Regions from separate parts of the Homo sapiens genome. Here region 1 is linked to region 2. Evidence: fine-mapped expression QTL. A gene starts in region 2. The other region holds a variant in brackets. All regions are shown on one strand. Distances are between the middles of the regions. Region 1 overlaps STRAP (serine/threonine kinase receptor associated protein). Region 2 holds the start of STRAP (serine/threonine kinase receptor associated protein).

What was found.
Region 1: its variant is fine-mapped to the expression of STRAP in whole blood (INTERVAL, PIP above 0.99).

Annotation. Positions count from the first base shown.
Region 1 is chr12:15,898,748-15,907,086 of GRCh38, forward strand. It overlaps STRAP (serine/threonine kinase receptor associated protein), which reads left to right. Exons shown (of 10, transcript NM_007178.4): 8 at 1,157-1,306; 9 at 2,200-2,265; 10 at 4,170-4,731. The coding sequence ends at 4,231. Among named protein-coding and RNA genes, the nearest start is that of DERA, 8.4 kb to the right of the region's middle. The variant G/A (reference allele first, on the strand shown) is at 4,563.
Region 2 is chr12:15,879,038-15,887,376 of GRCh38, forward strand. It overlaps STRAP (serine/threonine kinase receptor associated protein), which reads left to right and starts at 3,350. Exons shown (of 10, transcript NM_007178.4): 1 at 3,350-3,782; 2 at 4,504-4,639. The coding sequence starts at 3,671. LOC102724146 (a long non-coding RNA gene) reads right to left here and starts at 3,261. Exons shown (of 6, transcript XR_007063230.1): 1 at 2,743-3,261; 2 at 2,070-2,162. RefSeq lists a silencer at 358-652 and enhancers at 2,768-2,997, 3,308-3,427.

The DNA of each region.
Region 1 (8,339 bases), 20 kb after region 2:
TTTAGTTTTTATAAATATATATTTTTATCTATAAGCTGTCTCTTCTTGTTCTTGTCTGTTTCTAGCTGCCCTGCTTTACCAAAGAACGAAGCTTGCTAGATTACACCCAAAGAACAAAAGACAATTTTACGTTTTGTTTCTTGGGGAACATTGATGCATCTGGGTTGCACAAATGGAACCTTGGTGATGGACCATGTAGAATCTATTTTAATTGCTTATGGTTCAGTTTTTATTACTTGAATACAAGTGATTTATAAATAAGATATTCTTTTCTGTTACTTTTATTTAATGCTAGTTTTCAAAGTTTTAGAATGTTTTTGGTTTCATATTTTATTCTTTTTCAAGATTGAGAGAACTGAATTATTTGCCCAAGATCTGAAGTCACAGTGAATACCAGATCTGCCTAGCCTTTCTCTTTCCAAAACCTTGTGTTCTTTGTACTCTTACAACTTTTCTATTCTCTGGTGGGACACAGATGGGAGACAGAATAGGAACATTGGTCTAGTAAAGGGCTTTGAGAACTAATAAGGTGATGAGGCATTAGAAAGTAAATGAGAAAGGTTCATACTTAAAGGTACTACTTGAATATAACAGTGCTCCTAATCTATACATTTTCTCATTAGGTTCCATGGATTAAAATATTTATGGATCATTGTTGATCTATATCTCACCTTTCTGTGTGACAGAATAATTAGTGGACTGTAGGAAATTAAGAGGCAAAGTGTGTAAAAGAGCTCCACCTGGTGGCTCTCTATAGTCATAATAAAAATTGATTCCCTGAGAAATAGGCAGTGAGTTTTAGGATATGGAAATTGGAGGTTGAACTGGTAAGACTTTAAATCTACTTTCTATAGAATTAATGGGGTTTTCATTTACCTCTTTTTCTCCATCCTTAATGAGACATGAAGCCTCATTTGCTTTTTTTAGAGGGACAGTTTGAAACTAGAATGTGTGCTAGATTTGGAAAGGAATAATCTTACAGAGAAAGGGTCAATGATATACCACTTTTGTGATGAGAAATTAATTAAGTACAGGTTTTAATGTTTGCCTTAAGAATTTTCCATCTCCCCAGTAACACAGACAGTATTTTTTTTTTTTAGCATATCAATATTTAACCTAATAGTTAAAATTATCTAATAGCCCTCTTCTTTTTCAGAATCCTACAAGGGACACTTTGGTCCTATTCACTGTGTGAGATTTAGTCCTGATGGAGAACTCTATGCCAGTGGTTCAGAAGATGGAACATTGAGACTATGGCAAACTGTGGTAGGAAAAACGTATGGCCTTTGGAAATGTGTGCTTCCTGGTAAGAATTTTTATTCAGAATAATAAAATTTTTAAAATGCATGATTTTATGTCATTTTTAATCATTAATTTTATTTCAGGGTTCCTGTTTTCTATAAATTTTAAATTATATATTATGGTTTAAGCAGCGAGAAGCCCAGGATTATAAATTGGCCAGAGAAAGGGTCATGTTCCTTTGTTTAAATTTTTTTTGGTATGGCTGGGCACGGTGGCTCACGCCTGTAATCCCAGCACTTTGGGAGGCTGAGGCGGGCGGATCACAGGGTCAGGAGTTCGAGACCAGCCTGGCCAACATGGTGAAACCCCATCTCTACTAAAAATACAAAAATTAGCCAGGTGTGGTGGTACATGCCTGTAATCCCAGCTACTCAGGAGGCTGAGGCACGAGAATTGCATGAACCCAGGAGCCATGCATTGAGCTGAGATCACGCCACTGCACTCCAGCCTGGGCAAGAGTGACTCAGTCTCAAAAAAAAAAAAAAGAAAAATTTGTTGTACAATCTAGTCTGTTCCTAAATTTTTATACTAGCACATTTTGTGGCTGGAATAGATCTAATTCAAAATTTGCTGGAAGGCAATATAAAGAATTTACAAGTAAATGTATCTAATCTCTGAATAGTATTACTCACTGATCCACACCAATAAAGATAGACATGTTCTTAATAAAAAATACCTAGTTACTAATCCCTAAGTAGTTGCAGTATGAACCTAAAAGTAATTTTAAAGAAAGACATACTATTTTTAGAATCACAGTTATTTAAAAAGGAGTTGTTTTTATTATATTTTGTAGCCATTTTCCTGGAATAGTCTTATGTTGCTCTTCTTGCTTATTGAACACTGGAAATTACTTTAATAGTGTAAGTCATATAATCGTCATTGCTTTTCTTTTTACAGAAGAAGATAGTGGTGAGCTGGCAAAGCCAAAGATTGGTTTTCCAGAGACAACAGAAGAGGAGCTAGGTAAATGCTATGGAATTGACTTTTGTAAGAGTCTTGGGGGATTTAAAATTGAACTGTAACAGAAGTTTTACTCATTGGCAGAAGAAATTTATTAAATATGAACATATTTAAATAATGGAAACTTTAAATATTTATGCATGTATATATACATATTTATAAGCTAAATATTTAAATACCTACTGCATAGTAGTAATAGGCACAGAGATGTAGTATGGACACAACCGATGTGGTTACTCTTTCAGAGCTAGAGTCTAACTTAGGAGACATGCCAAAACACAAATTATTGTAAGGGGGATTAAAAAAAGCTTCCTAGAGAAGTGACATTTAAACTGGGAACTAAGGATGAGCAGAAATGATTTAGGTGAGGTCATGAGAGGGGGTGTTGGTAGGGACAGGATGGAAAAGTTCATAGCAGGAAAACTATGTTAACTAAAAGTTCAGAACCAAAAAGGAGCATAGCATATGAGGAACTAAAAGAACTTCTCCATGCCTCCAGGTTAAAGAGCAAAGGCAAAGTGAAGCTGGAGAAGCTAGATCATCTGAGGGCCTCATTTGCTGTATTAGGACTTGGAGAGTTTTATACTAAGAGCAATGAGAAACCTTTGAATTTTAAGAAGAGGACTTTAAAAGATTGCCTTGGTAGTTCAAGACCAACCTGGCCAACATGGTGAAACCCTGTCTCTACTAAAAATACAAAAATTAGCCGGTCATGGTGGCAGATACCTGTAATCCCAGCTATTTAGGAGGCTGAAGCAGGAGAGTAGCTTGAACCCAGGAGGTAGAGGTTGCAGCGAGCCGAGATTGCGCCACTGCACTCCAGCTTGGGTGTCAGAGAGAGACTCTGTCTCAAAAAAAAAAAAAAAAAAAAGGTTGCCTTGGCTGTTGCACGTACAAAGAATTGGACTGGGAACAAGAGTGAACATAAACCAGTTAGGGGGCATTGTAGTCTAGATGAGTGATCATGTAGGTTTTGTTTTGTTTTGAGATGGAGTCTTGCTCTGTTGCCCAGGCTGGAGTGCAGTGGCATGATCTCGACTCACTGCAGCCTCCGCCTCTGGTTTCAAGCAATTCTCCTGCGTAAGCCTCCTGGGTAGTTGGGATTACAGGTGCACCACCACGCCTGGCTAATTTTTGTATTTTTAGTAGAGATGGGGTTTCACCATGTTGATCAGGCTGGTCTTGAACTCCTGACCTCATGATCTGCCCACCTCGGCCTCCCAAAGTGCTGGGATTACAGGCGTGAGCCACTGCACCCGGCCTATCATGTAGTTTTTAATAAGGGTATTGCAATGAGAACAGAAAAAGGTAGATGGAGTTGAGAGTCTTTTGTTAGACTTGTTAGAATTGTGAGATTGATGAGTGGGGGTATCATGAGGAAGAAATATGCAGATTGCTGCCATGAGAAACTGGGTATGATGATTTTGGGGGAGGTTGGGAAGGTGTTTACCATTTACCCAATAGAGTTTTCCTTAAATTTTTTATTGTTAAGCACCTTCTTGCTAAAACAATGTTGATGGTTAATGTTTTGCTTTAAATAGCACTAAATATTAGGATTTGAATCACTAAAAGAGAGGGCCAGATCCTTCGAAGACATGACTTTAATTCCGGGTTTGTTATATAGCTGGAGTCTTTGAAAATTTAGGCCAGAAAGGGACCCTTGGAGGTTGAGTTATGGTGTAAGAGAATCTAGTGGATAAAACACATGAACTCTTTCTTCTTTGCCTTTTCAATGACATGAGTCTAGTTGTTAGTGGCATGTGCAGTTGCTCTCTTCTTTCCCTTACCACAGTATGCTTTACAAACACTTTTTCATTCCTTCATTACACAGAAATGTAGATTTGCTTCTTTCTTTCATTAAGTTGACTAATGTGACTTTTTTTTTTTTTTTTTTTTTTTACTTATAGAAGAAATTGCTTCAGAGAATTCAGATTGCATCTTTCCTTCAGCTCCTGATGTTAAGGCCTGAGCGTCAATCATATGTGCAGTTAGTATACAACTGACTAAAACAAGCAAGCAGAGAAAAGCATCAGCCTTCCAGAGTTACTGTCTGCTTAAGGCAGAAACAGCAGTAAATAATGAGGAAAATGAATTAGCTCCAGTGCTGGAACAACTAACTAACTTGGTGTTACCTGTAAGTGAAAACTCAAGTGTCAGATGAAGGGAGGTGGAGTTATCCTCTTATAGTACAGTGGCCTGTTATCTTTTTAATGAATATATACAAGCCAACATCCAATTTCTATTATTACAATTAGGGTTCTTGTAGCTGTTTATGTTAATATGGAGAAGAAAACTATATT[G/A]GCTGATTTTTTCTGATCTTAAAGCAGAATGCCTTTTCTTTTTTTGCTTCAGTTGTAAAGAAGAGGGAATACATGATAAAGTAACTGGTTTGATTTCTCGTTCATTGTACACTGCCTCTGAACATCTAATTGTTTTTAGTTGTCTAAATAAAATGCCTCTAAAACAAAACAATGTTTGGTTTTTTTGGGGAAAAACTACTAATGTGAGTTTTATAAGTGGAAATAGCCAGAAGGTTTTTCTGTATCATAACCATAGCAAAAGGTAAGCCAATTAATCTGTAGTAAACATTATTTTATAATATTGAGATTCAGTTACTTGTCCTGAATTTTTGAAATTCTTATGTCCTTTACTAGTGTTTCATTTACCTTCTCTATTCCCAGATTGGATAGAAGTGCTTGACATGCCTTTTTAAACAATTATTTAAATAATACATGCTAGTTATAAGAAAAAAAAAATCAACTGAAATTTAGCAGTAAGCTGAAAGATCACTTAAAATCCTACCACTCCTCAAAAAACTATTAAAATCAAATGACCATGAATGCATGTTAGGGCATCTCTGTATGTATATACAGATAGATAGAATGGATTTTATAAAAATGGGATTACTATAGTCCTGCAGTGGTTTAAGAAGTATGGAATTTTACCTCATTCTTTAAATTTGGGTGGCATTCAGAAAGCCCTTCTAAAACCTTCTAATAAATTGGATCAGCTGAGTTTAGACTTGTAATTTATTTTTTAAAACAAAGAGGGCATATTAAATGAGTAATTTGGAAATACTTCAGATGAATAAATAACATCTCTGCAACTTCCTTTTTCTCCTGATCAGTCCTGTGAGTGACCCTTGATAACTTTTCTTAAAAGCAATATGAGTCAACCAAAGAATAAGATTAATTTTTGAGGATTTGTGATAACCAGAAGAAAGCACTGTAGGCTGTGACAACCTGTGAGGGCCGAGAGAAATACAGGGGAGCCAACTGGTGATCCATATTGGCTTTCATAGAGTGGTAGTATTTTTGTGTCAGCTTGTTACATGCCTGAACCTCTGGATTGCAGCAGTGTTGTCATTGTACCAGCAGTTGCTCAGACTCTAATCAGAGTCTGATTTACCCTCAATAAAGTTCTGTACGCATCAGATTGGAATCATGAAGTTGCTTGTTATTTATGAACCAAGGGAATTTCTCCTTAGGTTTCATAAAAGTCTAATGACCCTGTACAGGTACAGTCCTTTGTGTATTGGTTTCCTGCTGCTGCTGTAACAAGTGACCACAAATGTGTACCTTAAGACAACACAAATTTATTATCTTACGGTTAGGGAGGTCAGAAGTCCACAGTAGGTCTTGCTGGGCTTAAATTAAGGTGTCAGCAGAGCTGCAAGCCTTCTAGAGGCTCTACAGGACAATCTGTTCCCTTGCCTTTTCTAGCTTCTAGAAGCCAGCTGCATTCCCTGGCTCATGGTTCCTTCCTCTTTCTTTACGTCCAGCAGTGTCCGTTTTTTAATCTCTTATTCTGAATGTGACTCTATCTCCTGCTGCCTTCTTTTATTTATAAGGAGGTTTGTAATTATATCGGGCTCACCTGAATAATCCAGGATAATCTTTCCAATTCAAGATCTTCAATTTAATCACATCTGCAAAAGTCCCTTTTGCCATATAGGATGACATATTCACAGGTTCTGGGGATTGGGAAGTAGACATCTTTGTGGGGGCCATTAGTTATTAGTCTGCTTACCACACTTGGTAATGGTAGAATCCTACAGTAGAATTTAACAAAACTTTCAAGAGTAGTGGTCACTTTTCTGTTCTCATCTTAACTAAACCTTCAGCAGCATTCAATAATCATCCACTTCCTGGTTTTTGATTTTTTTTTTTAGCTTCTATGAAACTACACTCCTGGGTCTTTTTTTTTTTTTTTTTGAGATGGAGTCTCGCTCTGTCACCCAGGCTGGAGTGCAATGGTGCGATCTCAGCTTACTGCAACCTCTGCCTCCCAGGTTCAAGCGATTCTCCTGCCTCAGCCTCCTGAGTAGCTGGGACTACAGGCATACACCACCACGCCCAGCTAATTTTTGTATTTTTAGTAGAGACGGGGTTTTGCCATGTTGGCCAGGATGGTCTTGATCTCCTGACCTCGTGATCCACCCGCCTCGGCTTCCCGAAGTGCTGGGATTACAGATGTGAGCCACCGTGCCCGGCAGGGTCTTTTTATACCTTACTGACTCTTGTATTTGCCAGTTCCTCCTTTTTTTTCTTGACTTCAGATCTGGGCTGCACTTTCTAGCTCTGTTGTCTAAAGAAAAATATCTGCTGTTACTCAAGATCTTCTGATAGGTTCTACATCGTTGTTTATATGTTGTCTACCTGGTCTGCCTCTTTGAGCACCAGAGTTTGACAGCATAGTTGAGTGCTCCATCTTAACCTTTCATAAGACTCAGACTTACCTATCGTAAGTCTTGATTTTTTAAATCAAACCTGTTTCCCTCAACCTTTCCCCATTCCACTAACTGGTACTAACTTATACTTACTTGTTCAAACTAAAAGACATGTAAATCCTTGACTGTGTTCTCTCTCATGCCCATGTCTATATGCAAGTCCTGTGGGCTCTTCGAAGCTGTGCTTTGCCTCCTCTCCATTGTTACCACCCTAGGCAGGCTACCTTTATTTCTCAGTTCCTTCATAACTGCTCCCTCTTGCCCCTACTCATTCGTCTGGCTCTTATCCCATCCATACTCCATACAGTAGGAAAGGTAATTGCTTTAGGATTTGAAGAGATGAGGTGATTTCCTTGTTAAGATCTGTAATGGCTTCCCATTATATGAAATTCTTATGATTAGTTGGCTCTTGATACCTTTTGTGACTTTTTCATATTTCCCTTGCTTGCCCTGCTCTAGCCACAGTGGCCTCATTTCTGTCTCAAGTCCTTTTCACTTGATATTTCTGCTACTTGGTTCACTCTTACCTAATGTTTTGCTTGGCTGGATCCTTTCTTTGCATTCAGTTCTCCAGCTGGTCTGTATTCCATCTCTTGTCACTTCTTACTGAGTCCTATTTTATTCATACTTGTTAACGCTATTTGAAATTTTGTTGCATGTTTTTCAGCTTCATTGATAGTCTCCCTTTACCTGGAAAGGTGACTGGTATGTTGTGAGTGCTCAATAGTTGTTGAAACAAGTCCCTCACCAAATCTTTTTAATCTCTCCCAGTAATCCATGTCAGACCAGGAAGACTGTTTTCCAGTTATCTCATATGTAGCAGGCCATCCTCCACTGAAGAGTGAGACATGGCAGGCATGGCAGACATGGCAAGACAAAGCTCTTACCTCTCCAGTGAACCCGTGTACAGCTTCAGCCGGTGTGAGACTGAAGTTACCCAGGAAGAATCCAGCTTTCACTTGCCTTCTCATCCAATTCATCCCCTGGAGTCTCCTCTCTAGGTCCTAATTTCCAGTAGGTCATGGTATCCCAAGTTCCCACCTAATATTAGTAATTTACCTTTTTATGAATCAATTACTTCTCTATTTTAGTGTCATCCAGAGTTTTCTTCCAGGAAGCCAGGATTGAGTGTGGTCATTCAATTCTCTTCAGAATATTTTTCATGTCAGTAAAGTTCAACACATTCTTTATAACGTCTACAAAATAGCATAGATGCACCAAATAGCATATAGATGCACCATAATTTATAACAAATTATAGATTACATTTTTTAGTAGTTGCTCAAATTCCATGGAAGTATTTAGCTGCCTTTTCTTTGAGACCAAGGTTGGGGAAAAATGGATGCAAT
Region 2 (8,339 bases):
AAATACAGTCACATTCTGAGATAGTGAGGATTAGGACTTTAACATAGGAATTTGGAGGAGGGGAACCCAATTCAGTCCATAACAGGAGAGCACTGATATTTTCCCAAAATTGAACCTGCCAACCCACAAACACAATATATCCATTTTCCATTTATTTTAATATTATTTAATGCCTTTAATAGAGAACGATACATTTTGCTGAGAGGCATTAAATAATATTGAACATCATGTTGGGTATTCCTTTATTTAACGAGATCCCCTTTTCTCCTTTTTGTACTATGGTTTAAGTCCTAGAAGGTTGACATTTATGGACCCCATTAAAGGGCTCCCTTGTCTTCTGGGCTCTGGCTGGGTTTGACCAATGGGAAGCATGGGAGATCTAAAAGTAGATATTCATTTCCCCACTTCTTCCCCATGGCTGTGCTGATGATAATTGGGAGCAGTTGTGTTCTTCTACTGATTATTCCAGCTCTCGCCCAGAGCCTTCTCCTGCAACCGTACCTTTCTCAAATAAATCAGGTTCAGATAACTGCTCCCTTTCAGTTTCTCATTCAGATCTATGGTTAGTGCCCTATTTTCTCCTTGTTGTTTACTTTTGATCCTGGCCACACTTCTGTAACTAATCCCTTCATTACACTGCTCTCAACTTCTACATTTCAGCGTGCCAGTTTTTTTTCTGCTGGGGAGTACACTTTGTTTTTTTATTCCTATGTACTTTATAATTCTTGATGCTATTTAACATGGCATATTTTAAAATTACATTTTTTGTTGTTGCTAATGTATAGAAATGTGATTTCTTCATTACACTTAAAACAACAACAACAACAACAACAAAACCCAGTAACCTAGGCATCGCACCCAGCCTGGGTAACATAGTGAGACTTCATCTCTTCTAAAAAAAGAAAAAAACAACTTCAGTAACCTTTCTAAATTCTCTCATTAATTCCAATAATTTTTATTTTTATTTTTTTCTTTTGAGACATGGTCTTACCTCATTGTCCAGGCTGCAGTGCAGTGGCAGAAATTGGGCTTATTGCAGCCATGAACTTCTGGGCTCAAGCGATCCTCCTGCCTCAGTGTCCCGTGTAGCTGGGATCACAGTAGTGTACCACCATGCCTGGCTAATTTTTTTATTTTTTTGTAGAGCCTGGGTCTCACTTTGTTGCCCAGACTGGTCTTGAACTCCTGGGCTGGAGTGATCCTCCCATCTCAGCCACCCAAAGTACTGGGAACTGGAATTACAGGCATGAGCCACCACACCTTGCCTCTTTTCTTTGTATATAACCTCTAAAACAATTTCTAATCACAGATTTACAACTTTCTTTGGAAGATTTATGCATTTTTAAGTTACCTGAACATCTAGTACGATGCTGTATTGAAGAGGCAGTAGCAATCATCTGTCTCGTACCTAATCTAATACAGAATGCTTTCTGTATTTCACCATTAGGTGTGGGGTTTCAGATATTCTATGAGGTTAAAAAAGTCCCTTCTATTTCTAGTGTCTCAGAATTCTTATAAGTGAAAGAATGCTGAATTCTATCAAAAACTTCTTACACATCTTTTGATATGATTTTCTTTAATCTTTTAATATTGTTAATTATATCAATTACATTAACCTGTCTTCTAATATTAAATTGACCTTGAAGCCTACCCAATTGGTCATAATACACAATACTCTTAGAACTCAGAATCCAAATGAGCAGGAAATAATACATTCTTTAGAGCCAAGTATGTACCATAACTTACCAATTATATTCTTATCTACACACAATGAGCAATAAATGAACATGTATCAGTATCTGACCAGTTGTGTCATTTTGAGTGGGTCTTTTATTTACCTCCATCAGTAATGCAACAATCTATTTAATCAGTAAACAGTCATGCTGAGTATTCACTAAATGCCATTCACTTTTCTGGCACTAGAGTACAAATGACAAAGCCATAACCATTGCCATTAAGGAGTTCATAAATGTGTGAGTGGTGCGTATGTGTGAGACAAAAGGGAGAGGATGGCACAAAGGAGGAGTCGAACAAGATAAAATGAAAAACATATATAGTAAGTGCTTTACCGTAAGTGAATGAACGAGAGTACTAAGGAAAAAGAATGGAGACGTATTTCAAGTTCTCACGTTGTTTGACTCGAATCTTGTAGACGGTGTTTGCTGCAAAAAGATGAAGAAAACATTCACAGACATTTATGTTGATTACATATTTATTGCTATGTGCCCAGACGTTTTGACCTTGGGGATAAAGTAGCAAAGAAAACACAAAAATCTCTGTTGTATTGGGTTTACATTCTATCAATAAAGATACAACTTGCCCAGAGAAAAGCCCTCTCCTGGTTAGGAAACAGTATCAACAATTAACAGCTCTGGTGGTTTCACAGAGCCACAGTGGGCTGCCTGCTGCAGACAATATCAGAGTTTGTTTATATTTAAATATTATTTTAATATTTCTATTTTTGTCCATGTATTATAATGCACATCTATGTAATTTGCAAATCATCACTCATATATACATCATATCAAAAGGTGTAAAAGTTTTTGATAGAATTCAGCATTCATTCGCTTATAAAATGAGTGAAGGCTCACTTTACGGATGAGAGTATTTCATCAAAAAAATTGGGGATCTACGACTCTAGAGTTCTCCGAAGTCCACCAAGGAAAAAGTAACTTGAATTTAATCGCATTTAAAACTATATAGTATCCACTCCTAAAACATTAGCAACATAGGAAAACTTACACAGCGGAAGAAATGACTGGGGATTTTTTTTTTTTTTTTAATACATGGTCTCGCTCTGTTGCCCAGGCTGGAGTGCGGTGGCGCGAGCACCGCTTACTGCGGTGTCGACCTCTCGGGCTCGAGTTATCCTCCCACCTCAGCCTTCCAAGTAGGTGGGACCACAGGCACCACCACTCCAAGCCCGTATATGGTTTTTAAATAAGACAAATTGCAAAAAACGTTGCCAGACAGCGTTCGCTGGTTTGGGCCGTCACTGGGTATGGCTCGTGTCCGTCTAGATATTCAGAGGCCGAGCACAGTCCTCAGTAGGGCTGCTCGGCAGGTACACAGCTGACGCTGGTCCTTGGACTTATGGGAGTGGGAACAACTTTCAACTCGGCCGCGGACCAGGAAGGCGTTCTGACCCGCTAGAGCTCGGGGACAGGGACCCCATCCCGGTGCCTAGAGCGTCTCCCTTAGTCGGCGTGGGCCAGCGCCAGTTACCTCACGAGCACTGAACTAGCGCCTGCGCCCTTCTATACTTCTCGCTCTTTCTTCAAGTCACTTCTACCCGGCGAGCCCGCCCTCCCGCCAATCGTCATTTCCGGCGGGTGCTCTGCGTCATTTACGTCGTCACTTCCTGCCGATGCCGGTGTGGACGCTGTGAATCGTGGCTGGCCCGGTTCTCCGCTTCTCCCCATCCCCTACTTTCCTCCCTCCCTCCCTTTCCCTCCCTCGTCGACTGTTGCTTGCTGGTCGCAGACTCCCTGACCCCTCCCTCACCCCTCCCTAACCTCGGTGCCACCGGATTGCCCTTCTTTTCCTGTTGCCCAGCCCAGCCCTAGTGTCAGGGCGGGGGCCTGGAGCAGCCCGAGGCACTGCAGCAGAAGAGAGAAAAGACAACGACGACCCTCAGCTCGCCAGTCCGGTCGCTGGCTTCGCCGCCGCCATGGCAATGAGACAGACGCCGCTCACCTGCTCTGGCCACACGCGACCCGTGGTTGATTTGGCCTTCAGTGGCATCACGCCTTATGGGTATTTCTTAATCAGCGCTTGCAAAGGTGAGCAAGGCCGCAATCCTGGTCCTCGACGGCTGGGACTGGGCTGAAAGGGATCGGGACCCGCACGCTCCAGTGCCGAAGCGGTGGTGTGGTGAGGGGGGAGGGGGCGATATTAACATCTGAGATGAGAGCCAACACTGGTCCGGTGGAGAAAGGAGTGTGTTAGGGAATCCGCAGCTGGAGCCGAGAGGACGCTTTTGTAGAAACTATTACCTCCAACTAAGACCTCTCTCCTTATTTTATTTTTATTGCTATTTTTGAAGGAGCTGGTCAGCATTTGCCTAGACTCTCGGGACAACACGGTAAATAGCTTTCAAGGATTTGGGGAAAGGAGAAATTAGGCCAGGCCGTGCAATACCTTACAAAGACGTTCGCTCTTGTCTCACTGGATATTCCTTTGTGGTATTAGCCTCATTTTTCAAATGGGAAACTGAGATTCAGGCTAAGATGTCTGTCCAAAATAAGACTAAAATCTAGATTGTTTTGACGCAGATCAGTATTCCCAGCCAATTACAGATGCTTTTCAGAGAGAATGATCTGTTCAGCTCTTCAGTTAATTTATTACTGCACATTCCTTAGTGCCTTCAGTGGGTGGTGGTAGTTAAATAGCTGAAACAATTTTTCCACTTTGTCATTGAACATCATTGTATATTTACATTTGAATCTTAGACTTTAAGTAATCTGAACTTATAAATTACATGTTTTAAAAAATATTTTCTAGATGGTAAACCTATGCTACGCCAGGGAGATACAGGAGACTGGATTGGAACATTTTTGGGTCATAAAGGTGCTGTTTGGGGTGCAACACTGAATAAGGATGCCACCAAAGCAGCTACAGCAGCTGCAGATTTCACAGCGTAAGTGTAGCCAAGATGGCTAACTTTGGTGTTCTCTGTAGCTTGTGTCCTGAAATAATCAAAAACTTCAGTGTCAGATATTCATAAAATTCTGACTCACTGGCTGCCATACAGAACGCATGTTTGATCCCACCAAAATTCCATCGTGGTCCATCGTGGTCCTGTGTGCTTCTTTGTCTTCAGTGGTTCTCAAAATTTTCAGAGGCCTAAATGACTTATTCCGTATATTTTGATTGAGACTCAGGAATCTGCATTAACAAACGCACCAGATAATGAATGTTGATCTCCTTTACGAATGCTGCTCTGTGTGTACTCCTTAGTGATATCCTACATTGATGGCCCTAGGTTTTTATTTCAATCCCGGTTTTTGTTAACTGGCTTTAGGCATCATTAAAACTCATTGTGTCAAAAACAAACAAACAAAAAAACAACAAAAAAACAAAACTCAGCTGCTCGTCATTTCCTAAGTTTTTAAAGGTTGAAATCTAAAGCATTCTTGATTTTCCCTTATATCTAGATTATCATCATCTTTTTTGATTCTGCCAGCGGGATGTCTCCTGACTCCAATGTTCCTTCATGTAGTAACTGTGGCTGCCTTAGTTCAGGATCATTTTTAACTTTCAGTAGTTTCTTTTCCTCCTATTCATTTTCCATATTGTTGCCAGTTGTCTTCCTAAAAACATACTTGATCATGTCACTTCTCTACTAATGATCTTCCTGTCTTCCCTTTGCCATTTTAGTAGTTCATGACCTTTGATGTACATTAGAATATCTGGAGAGCTTTTCAAATATTCAAATGGTATGAGTCCCAGAAATTCGGATTTTTAAAACTTTTTTTTTTTTTTACTTTTTTACTATATATTTATATTTTATACTTTTTACTACATTTAAAAATATTTTTTAATACTTTTTACTATACAGACAGTATCTAGCTATGTTGTCCAGGCTGTCTTAAACTCTTGGCCTCCATGCCTCAGCCTCTCAAAGAGCTGGGGTTACGGGGGTGAACTACTGTGCCTGGTACAGAAATTCTGGTTTGATTGGTCTGGGGATGGAGTACTGGTCATACTGATTATTGGTGTTTTTTTATTTTTCTTTCTTCCTTTTCTTTCCTGATGTGCAGTCATAGAATTGCTGACCTAAAGGACACATTTCAATTGTTGGCCCTTTACAGTTTGCTTCATCCTAGTTCATCAGCATCATCCTCTGCCATTGCACACCATAAACCTACAATCTAATTATACTAATCTTATTGTTGCCAGAATATACCTTACCTGTTCTGACTTTTGGCGGTTAATTATGTTATTAAACTGACTTGCAGTGGCCCTCGTTGCCTTTTTGGGAATGTATCATATTTTATAAATCTTGTTATCTCCAGTTCCTACTTGGTATTTGTAACTTAGGAATTTGACACTTCATTGTTTAAACTGATGAAGGCAATATCAAGAACTGTTGTGCATACACAGATTTATTAGACTTAAGAGGCTAGAGAGTACAAGTGGTGTTTTTTTTTTTTTTTTTTTTTTTTTAAAGACAGAGTCTTGCTATGTCCCCAAGGCTGGAGTGCGGTGGCACAGTCTCGGCTCACTGCAACCTCCACCTCCCGGGTTCAAGTGATTCTCCCACCTCAGCTTCCTGAGAGGCTGGGACTACAGGTGCACGCCACCACGCCTGGCTAATTTTTGTATATTTAGTAGAGACGGGGTTTCGCCATGTTGGCCAGGCCGGTCTCGAACTCCTGACCTCAAGTGATCTGCCCGCCTTGGCCTCCCAAAGTGCTGGGATTACAGGTGTGAGCCACCGTGCCTGGCCTTTTTTTTTTTTTTTTTTAACAACCTCACACTAAGGAGCAATTGTAAATCTGCTGCCTCCTTCATTTTAAGTACATTAAACATACCAATTTTAGAATGAAAAAATGAAGGCTGATTGACTGTGGTGGCAGATACGTGACTGTATGCTCTTGTTTATTGAAACAGTGTTGTTTTTATGCTTTCTTAACATTTCAAGTCTCAATGTCTGTGTTTACAAGTGGTGTATTAAGAGCATGAAGGCTGGAGCCAGATGACCTGAATTTGAATTGGTGGCCTCATGCACTTTATTTAACCATTTTTTTTTCTGTCATGGTACCTAATTCATAGGTTGGTTTTGAATATTAAATAAGTTAATATGTTTCGAATACTTACAACATTGCCTGAAGTCTATTACACCTATGAAAGTGTTACATATGTAAAGTAACGATGATAGCTACCATGTAAACTATCACCACCCGCACTTGATCAAAATCACATATTATTTTGAAACTAATATGGCTAAAGCCTTCAAACTATTTGGCCTCATATAAGGAAGATTGAATAGATTTAAATGTCAAGAAGGAAGATTTTTGTGATTTTTTTTTCCCCCTCCTCAGTTAAGGCTTTAGGTGCTGTGTTAGAGTGGAAAATAATAACAAGCATTGGCACTAGGTGGGCTTGCATTCGTGTGCTAACTATGCTGTGTATTTCCAGTTTGATCATCATAGGATTTTTTTTTTTTTTTGAAACAGGGTCTTAGGTGCCTAGGCTAGAGTGCAGTGGCGTGATCATAGCTCACTGCAGCCTCTATCTCCCAGTCTCAAGCAGTTCTCCAACCTCAGCCTCCTGAATAGTGACCACAGGCGTGTACTACCATGCTTGGCTAATCTTTGTGTTTTTTGTAGAGATGGGCTTCACCATGTTGTCCAGGTTGGTCTTGAACTCTTGGGCTCAAGCGATCTGCCCACCATGGCAGGATGTTTCTTAAATGTCGGCTTTCATATCTGTAAAATGGGACTAAGACCCATGAGATTATTGGAGGAACAGAGAGATCTTTCTCCACCATATATCCCTGAAGTCCAATATGATCTCTGTCACATAGTAGGTGCTCAATAAATGCTAGTTGAGATTTATCCCTCATTTCCTCTATGTCTTGTCTGTGGGGTGTAGGAGCGTGTTTTCATGTGCGTGTTTGTGTGTGTGTGTATTCTCTCCAAGAAGTTACTCCCCACAGCCTACCTGATTAGTCATGGTTGGTATAAAGCATTTTTAGAAACAATTTTTTTTTCCCTCCATTCTTACGTTTCTTGGAAAACTCATTTATGGTGTGGTCATTTAGAAGTGGAATTTGGTCCCGTTTCTTGTGGAGAAATTTAGCAGAATAGGTCTGTGGACTAGTGTAGAATGTTATCTTGGAGTAATTCGGGCAATTGAGTCCAGTGTTGAGTACAGTGTCCCTAAAACACCATCTCTTTGTATCTATTTGGGAAGAGTGCCAAAGTAAAGACAATTCTGTGCTGTGCTCCCAAGAGGGCTTAAGTAGATCTGGGATTGGGTCCAGGAATTTATAGGTAATCACAATGTATCACTCTTTCTTTCTTGTAAAGCCAATAGAAATATCTAATTTTAGTTTTAATAAGGTTCTTGATAAATCGAAAATGGTATTATCTCCTAGATGACTTGGTCAACATGTTAAGGTATTTGGGCAATTTTTTAAAAATCTTAAACTGGCCTGTTTTGTTGAAGGTTTAAATAAGTAAGTTAAGCAGCTCCTATTATGAGACTTACGGTAAGTTCATTCTGAGGATATGGAAAGTATCAGGCAGCATTATTATTTGCAAGAAACTGGGGTATAAGAGGTAACAGTAGTTTAAGGAGATGACAAGTACTTCGTGGGATGTGAAGAAAAT